Homo sapiens: one gene and its partner. Changing the gene in region 2 together with the main gene of any one other region gives a genetic interaction. Each region holds a gene or a part of one and is shown on either strand. Other genes may lie near its edges.

The links. Genes that interact genetically often act in the same process or in processes that back each other up.
Region 1: changes in CAMLG (region 2) and KIF14 together harm fitness more than expected from each alone (negative genetic interaction), as found in Homo sapiens cells (one large-scale study listed by BioGRID).

Annotation. Positions count from the first base shown.
Region 1 is NC_000001.11:200,613,411-200,618,474, reverse strand, and holds part of KIF14 (kinesin-like protein KIF14), read left to right. Parts: coding exon 1-863; intron 864-2,865; coding exon 2,866-3,120; intron 3,121-4,069; coding exon 4,070-4,157; intron 4,158-5,064. UniProt on the Homo sapiens protein: Microtubule motor protein that binds to microtubules with high affinity through each tubulin heterodimer and has an ATPase activity. Plays a role in many processes like cell division, cytokinesis and also in cell proliferation and apoptosis.
Region 2 is NC_000005.10:134,743,956-134,749,019, reverse strand, and holds part of CAMLG (guided entry of tail-anchored proteins factor CAMLG), read right to left. Parts: intron 5,034-5,064; coding exon 4,968-5,033; intron 1-4,967. UniProt on the Homo sapiens protein: Required for the post-translational delivery of tail-anchored (TA) proteins to the endoplasmic reticulum.

The DNA.
Region 1 (5,064 bases), on a different chromosome or scaffold from region 2:
CCTGTAGGTAGATTGGCACTTCAGAGGAGAACTACAAGGAACAAAGAATCATCTTTGCTTGTTAGTGAGTTGGAAGACACAACTGAAAAAACAGCAGAAACACGTCTTACATTACAACGTCGTGCTAAAACAGATTCTGCAGAAAAGTGGAAAACAGCTGAAATAGATTCTGTCAAAATGACACTGAATGTGGGAGGTGAAACAGAAAATAATGGTGTTTCTAAGGAAAGTAGAACAAATGTAAGGATTGTAAATAATGCTAAAAACTCTTTTGTTGCCTCTTCTGTACCTTTAGATGAAGATCCACAGGTCATTGAAATGATGGCTGATAAGAAATACAAAGAAACATTTTCTGCCCCCAGTAGAGCAAATGAAAATGTTGCACTTAAGTACTCAAGTAATAGACCACCCATTGCTTCCCTGAGTCAGACTGAAGTTGTTAGATCAGGACACTTGACAACGAAACCTACTCAGAGCAAGTTGGATATCAAAGTGTTGGGAACAGGAAACTTGTATCATAGAAGTATTGGGAAGGAAATTGCAAAAACTTCAAATAAATTTGGGAGCTTAGAAAAAAGAACACCTACAAAATGTACAACAGAACACAAACTGACAACAAAGTGCAGCCTGCCTCAGCTTAAGAGCCCAGCTCCATCAATACTGAAGAATAGAATGTCTAACCTTCAAGTTAAACAAAGACCAAAAAGTTCCTTTCTTGCAAATAAACAGGAAAGATCCGCAGAAAATACAATTCTTCCCGAAGAAGAAACTGTAGTTCAGAACACCTCTGCAGGAAAAGACCCCTTAAAAGTAGAGAATAGTCAAGTGACAGTGGCAGTACGCGTAAGACCTTTCACCAAGAGGTATGTGATGCCTTTTAAAATCTAAAGCCAAGCAGTTACATGTAAGGTACCTTTAATTCCTCTCTGCCTTTGGAAGGTCAGTGTATTCGTGCATCTTCAAACTTGTTGGCAATACTTTTATATAGAAAGAACTTTTAGGTCTAGTTGTAGTGTGTGTTGATAATTTTTGATCACTGACTATAAAATTAAAAAATTGAATCACCATATTTTGTATATTGAAGTTTCTCTAGATATATTGCTTTTAAAAAGTCTGAATAAGTCACTTAGGTCTCTAATGAAATCTGCTTTCAGATCTGCAATATATGCTGGAATGTTATACCTATCCCTTAAAAAGAGCCATAACAGGCCAGGTGTGGTGGGTCACGCCTGTAATCCCATTGCTTTGGGAGGTCAAGGCAGGCAGATCACTTGAGGCCAGGGGTTTGAGACCAGCCTGGCCAATATGGTGATACCCTGTCTCTACTAAAAATACAAAAATTAGCTGGGCATGGTGTTGCACACCTGTAATCCCAGCTACTCGGGAGGCTGAGGCAGGAGAATCACTTGAACCCGGGAGGCAGAGGCTGCATTGAGCTGACATCAGGCCACTGCACTCCAGCCTGGGCGACAGAACGAGACTGTCTCAAAAAAAAGAAGAGCCATAACAAATTACTGGTTCCCTAAAGAGGTCCTTTCAAAACCCTTTCCAGAGTGGTGATTATCATCATCATTGTCTCCGATTACTATATAGTAGTTATAAATGCAGTGATACATTAGATTTGATTTTGATGGCAAAAAATCTCTCTCTAAAAGTGGTTGTGGGTGGGGAAGACACAGATTAAAGATAAGGTTGGAAAAGATGGACATGACAAAATGTGAATGTGACAAAATGTAATTGTTTTAAAATATTTTAATGTAGTTGTTTAAAATATTTTAAGGGACAGTGAAAAACTTCACAGAGTTAGTAGTGTTTAACTTGAAGCTGTGTATCTAAGCAAGTTAGAAGAGGATTTGGTGACCACTGCATCAGGGCAGGAACCTCCAGTTTGAACCTAAGGGGTCAGTAGTTAAAGGCAAGTTATACAGTACTGTAGAATCTTTTTCGTGCAAATGGGTTAGTATTAAGAGGGAGAACTGAGGGTGAGTTGGTTTGAGAGAATTGGAATGTCTAATAGAGCCTCAAGAACCATGATAGGAAGAGAAACAATAGAAAGAGCTGGTAGGGACAAAATGCAAGATGGATGACTATACTGAACTTAGTAAGGGACCAAGTGCCTGATTCCAAACTCATCAGACAAGCCTTGAAAGCAGGGCCAGGGTAGAGTACTTGTCAAATTGATGAGGCAGGTGTTTTTTCCAGAATAAATTCTGATTTAAAGCAGTCTCAGAGTCAGGGATGGAGCGGGGAGGGAGTGTATATCTGGAGCCAGACAAAGAGTGATGATGTTTTTCTGTAGATCTAAAGTAAATGAAAGATTTCCACCTAAGTCTCAAAGGGAAAAAGGATATACAGAAAGATTCATGATTTTAAGGGAGAGAATCTAGAGGAAGGAGGAGAGATCTTTAGTAGCCAAGAGAGACTTATGATTGAAACTTACAGTCAACTGAGTTTGTTAAAATTAGATATTTGTATTTTATGCCAGCTTTATTTAGATTGGTACCCCCCCAAATTTGTATAATAAAGATGTAGATTTGGATGAAGAGTATAGGTAGATTATAGTAGGTGGGATGGGAAAAGGTATAGTTCAAGAGAAAAAAAAAAGAGGAAAAAATCTTGTAAAAGTAGGATAGGTTTTCTGGAGGAATCTGGGATTTTCCCTTTGGTGGCACTGGAGCCTCAGGAAATATATTTTGGAAACCCACTAGAATTATGTTTGCTTATCTGCATTTTCCACATAAAACTACAGAATTATCTTGCCTTGGAAGATTGTTTAAATAGTTTTGAGGTATTTATTATGTTCTGTGAGAATAATACCCTTGATCATTTTAGTTACTTGATTTTTTTCTTTGTGCTTCTTTCAAGAGAGAAGATTGAAAAAGCATCCCAGGTAGTCTTCATGAGTGGGAAAGAAATAACTGTGGAACACCCTGACACGAAACAAGTTTATAATTTTATTTATGATGTTTCATTCTGGTCTTTTGATGAATGTCATCCTCACTACGCTAGCCAGACAACTGTCTATGAGAAGCTAGCAGCACCACTCCTAGAAAGAGCCTTCGAAGGCTTCAATACCTGTCTTTTTGCTTATGGTCAGACTGGCTCTGGAAAATCATATACGTAAGTTGTATTGGAAATGCAATTATCCAGAAGTGTTTAAATATACTTTTGTGAGAAGTGGCATAGGGGTGATAGAAAGAATATAGTTTTGAAATCACACAGATCTTGGCCCAAATCTCATCCATTTTATATACCAGTTCTGCAAACTTGGGCAATTTACTTAGCCTCTGGGCTTCAGTTTATACATTTACCTTGATACAATTCATCTTGTAATTATCATTGGCCCCATTTTACTGTACTTTATATATTTTACATAAACTAAGGCCTAGAGAGGTTATCTTTTAAGTATTTTGGTGAGAATTAAAAGTAAGGCATCTAAGCTAGATGTGATGGCACACACCTGTAGTCTCAGCTACTTGGGAAGCTGAGGTAGGAGGATTGCTTAAGTGCAGGAGTTCGAGTCCAGCCTGGGCAACTTAGTCCCCATCTCTTAAGAAAAAAGGGTGGAGGGGCATCTGATAAATGGTAGCTATGATAATAATACCTGTCCTAGAAAGAAATACTCAGCATTTTAACAGTAGCTAACATTTGAGTTCTTTTTTTTTTTTTTTTTTTTTTTTTTTTGTAGCAAGGTTTGTTGTGAAGAGCGAAAGAACAGAGCTTCCACAGTCCACAGCGTGGAGGGGTCCCAAGCGGGTTGCCCAACATTTGAGTTCTTACTATATTCCAGACACTGTGCTAAAGACTTTGCTTATATTCTTTCACAACAATTCTCTGAATTAGATAGTTGTATTATTCCTGTTTTACAGTAGAGGAAATTGAAGTTTAGTGAGGTTAAATATCTTGGAGTCAAGATTTGGACTCAGGCAGATTTGACTCCAGAGTCCAGATTCTTAATTATGAGATTCAGTGAACTTGCTTCCTACTCCCTTCCCAGCCTATTTCCCCAAAAAGAATTTTAAAGAAAGAATTAGTTTTATTTCCCCCTTATTCATAATGTATTTTTCAGGATGATGGGATTTAGTGAAGAACCAGGAATAATTCCAAGATTTTGTGAAGATCTTTTTTCTCAAGTAGCCAGAAAACAAACCCAAGAGGTATGTTCTTATAATACCTGCAAGCTTCTTTTCAGAGTAGAAAATAGTCAAATCAAGTTCAAATCAGTCATGGCCACTAAGGAAATACTTAATGGAAGATCAGTTCTAATTTGTAGATCACTCTTCTTTGGAACAGTGGTATGGAGAGGGAGGGTGGAAATTCTAAATTCAGAATCAGTTTCACCTAGTGGGCAGTGATAGTGAAGTCATCTCTTCTGTCTTTTCTCCCTTGTTTTTGCTTTACTTTTGTGTATACGTAGAGGCTCACAAACATGGTAGCTATGTGCTGTTATACGTGTGTTTGTAGTCAGATAGGTGTACAGTTTAACTAAGGACAGCAGGCATAACCTTTTGGACAACGTGAATCAGAAAGAGTAGTGAAATTGGGATTTGAACCCAGAGTTGACTTCAAAAGCCATGCTTTTTCCACTCTACTACACCTGAATAGGCTGTACTGGCTTCCTATTTCACTTATTCATTTACACATTCAGCTACCTTTTACTGAGCATTCTGCTGTTGCCAGGCAGCTTGTTAGATCAGTTTTTTTTTTTCTCAAATTTTCTTGGTCATAAGAATCACCGGGGATTCTTGGCAGGGACATATATGTGCATGTGTATGTGTATGTACACACTTGCTAAAAATCTCTTCTGGGGGTTCTGAGTCAGTTGGTCTGGTGTAGAGCTTGGGATTTTATAATTTTCATGCTTTTCCTCCAGTATTTTTTATGATAAAGGAAATTGGGAAAATTGTGCTAGATTAGGGGTGTGGAGTTAAAAGACCCAGTCCCTGTATTCAAAGGAGTGTAGTGGGAGAAATAAGTTAACAGCCAAGTACAATCAATTAAATGCTAAACAAACTAAAGTAGATGCTCTAATAGAACATGTAAGTGAGGACATATAAAGTTGGA
Region 2 (5,064 bases):
CAAGAAAGCTCTTAGTTTTAGTCATAATAACCCCAAAACTGAAAACAACCAGGATGTCCATCTATAGGAGACTAGATAAATGGATATAGTCATACAATGTAGTATTACTGAGCCAAGAAAAAAAAAGGAATTAACTACTGATTTATCCAACAACATGGATAAATCTCAAAAATATCATGCGGAATAAAGAAGGCTTGCACAAAAAAGTAAAATCAAGAATGATCCCACTTACATGGATTACTATGCCAGACACAACTAATCTATCGTGGGAAAAAGTTCTTTGGGGTATAGGGACTGGGACTGCCTGGAAAGGAGCATGAAAGAAACTCCTGGGGTGACAGTGAAGTTATAAACCTTGAAAGAGGTATGGGTTTCATAGGATAACAAACGTATTAAATGGTACAATTAAGACAAGCATTTCAAGCAATCAATTAATTACGCTGGTACCCTACTCTTCATATTAGAACTAATTTTTTTTGTTTGAGACGTAGTCTTGCTCTGTCGACCAGGCTGGAGTGCAATGGCAGGATCTCGGCCCACTGCAACCTCCGCCTTCTGGGTTCAAGCGATTCTCCCACCTCAGCCTCCCCGGTAGCTGGGATTATAGGTACCCACCATCATGCCCGGCAAATTTTTGTAGAGATGGGGTTTCACCATGTTGGCCACACTGGTCTTGAACTCCTGACTTCAGGTGATCCGCCCATCTCGGCCTCCCAAAGTGCTGGGATTACAGGTGTGAACCACTGCACCCGGCCTCAGAACTAATTTTACCTTAAAATTTTACCTAAAAGCCAGGTGCGGTGGCTCACACCTGTAATCCCAGCACTTTGGGAAGCGGAGGTGGGCGAATCACAAGGTCAAGAGATAGAGACCAGAGACCAGCTAATTCTAGCACTTTAGGAGGCCGAGGTGGGCAGATAATCAGGTCAGGAGATCAAGGCTGTCTTGGCCAACATGGTGAAACCCCGTCTCTACTGAAATACAAAAAAAATTAGCCAGGTGTGGTGGCACATGCCTGTAATCCCAGCTACTTGGGAGGCTGAGGCAGGGGAATCGCTTGAACCTGGGAGGCGGAGGTTGTGGTGAGCTGAGATCTCGCCACTGCACTCCAGCCTGGCGAAAGAGCAAGACTCCATCTCAAAAAAAAAAAAAAAGAAAGAGACCATCCTGGTCAGCATGGTGAAACCCCGTCTCTACTAAAATTACAAAAATTAGCTGGGCTTGGTGGCGTGTGCCTGTAGTCCCCGCTATTCGGGAGGCTGAGGTGGAAGAATCGCTTGAACCTGGGAGGTGGAGGTTGCAGTGAGCCAAGATTGTGCCACTGCACTCCTGCCTGGTGACAGAGCGAGACTCCGTCTCAAAAAAAAAAAAAAATGCCGAGCATGGTGGCTCATGCCTGTAATCCCAGCACTTTGGGGGGCCGAGGCAGGCGGATCATGAGGTCAGGAGATCGAGACCATCCTGGCTAACACGGTGAAACCCCGTCTCTACTAAAAATACAAAAAAAAATTAGCCGGCCGTGATGGCGGGCGCCTGTAGTCCCAGCTACTTGGGAAGCTGAGGTAGGAGAATGGTGTGAACCCGGAAGGCGGAGCTTGCAGTGAGCCGAGATGGCACTCCAGCCTGGGTGACAGAGCAAGCCTCGTCTCAAAAAAAAAAAATTACCTAAAGAACCTTAAAACAGTAAATTGTAAGTCAGTGTTATGTAAGAGGGGTGAGGTATACCGATGTGTACACCTACAACATACTTTGAAATGCATCAAGAAAAATTTGATGGAAAAACTTTACAGAGATTATCTTGGGTTTGAAAAATAAAAGAAAACCTGATAGATACATAATATAATAAGATGTTAATTGTAGAATCTAGGTCGTTGGTATTATATAAATGGGTGTTCACGGCACAATTCTTTCAACTTTTGTGTTTATTTATTTTTGAGATGGAGTCTTGCTCTGTCGCCCAGGCTGGAGTGCAGTGGCGCTGTCTTGGCTCACTGTAAACCTCTGCCACCGGGTCAGCAATTCTCCTGCCTCAGACACTGAGTAGCTGGGATTACAGGTCTGTACCCACCATGCCAAGCTAATTTTTGTATTTTCAGCAGACATAGCGTTTCACCATGTTGGCCAGGTTGGTCAAGAACTCCCAGCCTCAGGTGATCTGCCCACCATGGCCTTCCAAAGTGCTGGGATTACAGGCGTGAGGCACCACGCCTGGCCAACTTTTGTGTTTAAAAACTGCTATAACAGGCCAGGTGCAGTGGCTCACACCTGTAATCCCAGCACTTTGGAAGGCCCAGGTGGGCAGATCACCTGAGGCTGGGAGTTCCAGACCAGACTGACCAACACGGTGACACCTCGTCTCTACTAAAAATACAAAAATTAAGTGGGTGTGGTCACTCACACCTGTAGTCACAGCTACTTGGCAGGCTGAGGCAGGAGAATGAACACAGGAGGCGGAGGCTGCAGTGAGCTGAGATCGTGCCACTGCACTTCAGCCTGGGCGACAGAGTGATACTCTGTCTCAAAAACAAACAAGCAAAAAAAACCCTGCTATAACAAAATGCTGTTTTGTTGGGAGAATATATAAAGTCTCCCTTTTCTCTCTTCCATTTACATAGTACCCATATATACATCTCTATCACACACATAAGTATTGTTAATAATTTCATGTATAGTCTTTCAGTTTGTTTATGCATATATAAGCAAAATCAAATAATACATTATTTTTTCTTTTCAAAAAGAAATTAGTATAGATTCTATAGATTCTATTCTGAATTTTGTTTTTTTTTCTCTTAATATTTCTTGGAGAGCTTACCATTGTCAGTACATTGAGAGCATCTTCATTCTGAATAGATACGTTATAATTTTTTTTTTTTTTTTTTTTTGAGATGGAGTTTTGCTTTGTTGCCCAGGCTGAAGTGCAATGGTGCGATCTCGGCTCACCACAACCTCCACCTCCTGGGTTCAAGTGATTCCCCTGCCTCAGCCTCCTGAGTAGCTGGGATTACAGGCATGCGCCACCATGCCTGGCTAATTTTGAATTTGTAGTAGAGACGGGGTTTCTCCATGTTGGTCAGGCTGGTCTCGAAATCCCGACCTCAGCTGATCCGCCCGCCTCGGCCTCCCAAAGTGCTGGGATTACAGGCATGAGCCACCGTGCCTGGCCAATTTTTTTTTTTTAATGTAGTCACTCAGTGGACATTTAGGTTCCAAACTTTGCTACTGCAAAACTACAATCAATGTTTCAAAGGTGATTTTCTTTTTTTTTTTTTGAGACAGTCTCGCTCTGTTGCCCAGGCTGGAGTGCAATGGCACAGTCTGGGCTCACTGCAACCTCCACCTCCCAGTTTCAAGTGATTCTCCCTGCCTCAGCCTCCCAAGTAGCTGGGATTACAGGCACCCGCAACCATGCCTGGGTAATTTTTATATTTTTAGTAGAGATGGGGTTTCGCCATGTTGGCCAGGCCAGTCTCGAGCTCCTGACCTCAGGTGATCCACCCCCCTCAGCCTCCGAAAGTGCTGGGATTAGGGCGTGAGCCACGGCGCCCAGCCTCAAAGGTGAATTTCTTTCTTTTTTTTTTTTTTTTGAGGAGTCTCGCTCTGTCGCCCAGGCTGCTGGAGTACAGTGGCGCAATCTCGGCTCACTGCAAGCTCCGCCTCCCAGGTTCACGCCATTCTCCTGCCTCAGCCTCCCGAGTAGCTGGGACTACAGGTGCCTGCCACCACGCCCGGCTAACTTTTGTATTTTTAGTAGAGATGGGATTTCACCCTGTCAGCCAGGATGCTCTCGATCTCTTGACCTCGTGATCCACCTGCCTCAGCCTCCCTAAGTGCTGGGATTACAGGCGTGAGCCACCGCGCCCCGCCTCAAAGGTGAATTTCTAAACAAATGCTTAATTAAAATTACAATGTTATTTACTCTTTTACTTCTTATATTTGACCTATTTGACCCTTCAAAAATACAAATGCTTCAAATCCATTAAAATCATACACAGGTCTGTCAGCCCATTAAATATAACACGCAGACAGCCAAGTAGCAATTTTTTCAGCAAAAAGCTCCCACAAAATTCGATCACACTAGTTAGGCTATCGTCTATGTCAGGCAAGCCAAGCCTCATAAAACTGTATATATCTGTAGTCAAGTAGGCCAGGTAAACATTGACTCTCAACATCATTCTGTTCTGTAATATTGGCCAAATATTTATTGCAAATATCAGGCCCTCAACACTGAAGATAAAGTGCACTGCTATTAAGTGTCCAATATGAAGTACAATGAGATAATCAAATCCATTTTTTAATTAATTTCCTTTATTATAGACAAAATGAATTACTAAATTTACTAATTAAATTTAATACTTTGCTTAAACAAGTACTATTCACACTTTTTCATGAAGGACCTCAATCCACAGTATTTTTGTAAAACAGAATAACAATGTTATGGCAATGTCAAATTGCTATAAAAGTTTCTAATTACTCTTTTTTTTTTTTTTTTTTTGGAGACAGAGTCTCACTCTGTCACCCAGACTGGAGCAGTGCAGTGGCGCAATCTTGGCTCACTGCAACCTCTGCCTCCTGGGTTGGAGCAACTCTCCTGCCTCAGCCTCCTGAGTAGCTGGAATTACAGGTGTGCGTCACCATACCTGGCTAATTTTTGTATTTTTAGCAGAGATGGGGTTGCACCATGTTGGCCAGGCTGGTCTTGAACTCCTGACCTCAGGTGATCCACCCACCTCAGCCTCTTAGAGTGTGGGGATTACAGGCGTGAGCCACTGCGCCCGGCCAATTACTCATTTTTTGAACTTAATGTATAACAAACACAAACACATAGTTTGGAGATAAGTGGGCAAACCACACTTTGAGTAGCACTGATTCAGACCGTAAGCAGGACTAACATTTTTAAGTTCCTTCAATTAGCTAGTCATAAATCAATCCAAACACATCATCGAAATTTAGAAAAAAAATTAATTTACCTTGGGAAAATATTTGTATAATCCCATGTACGCAAGTTGTAAAGTAAGAAATGGAGCAAATATGGACTGTGAAGATAGAAGATAAAATTAAATATTT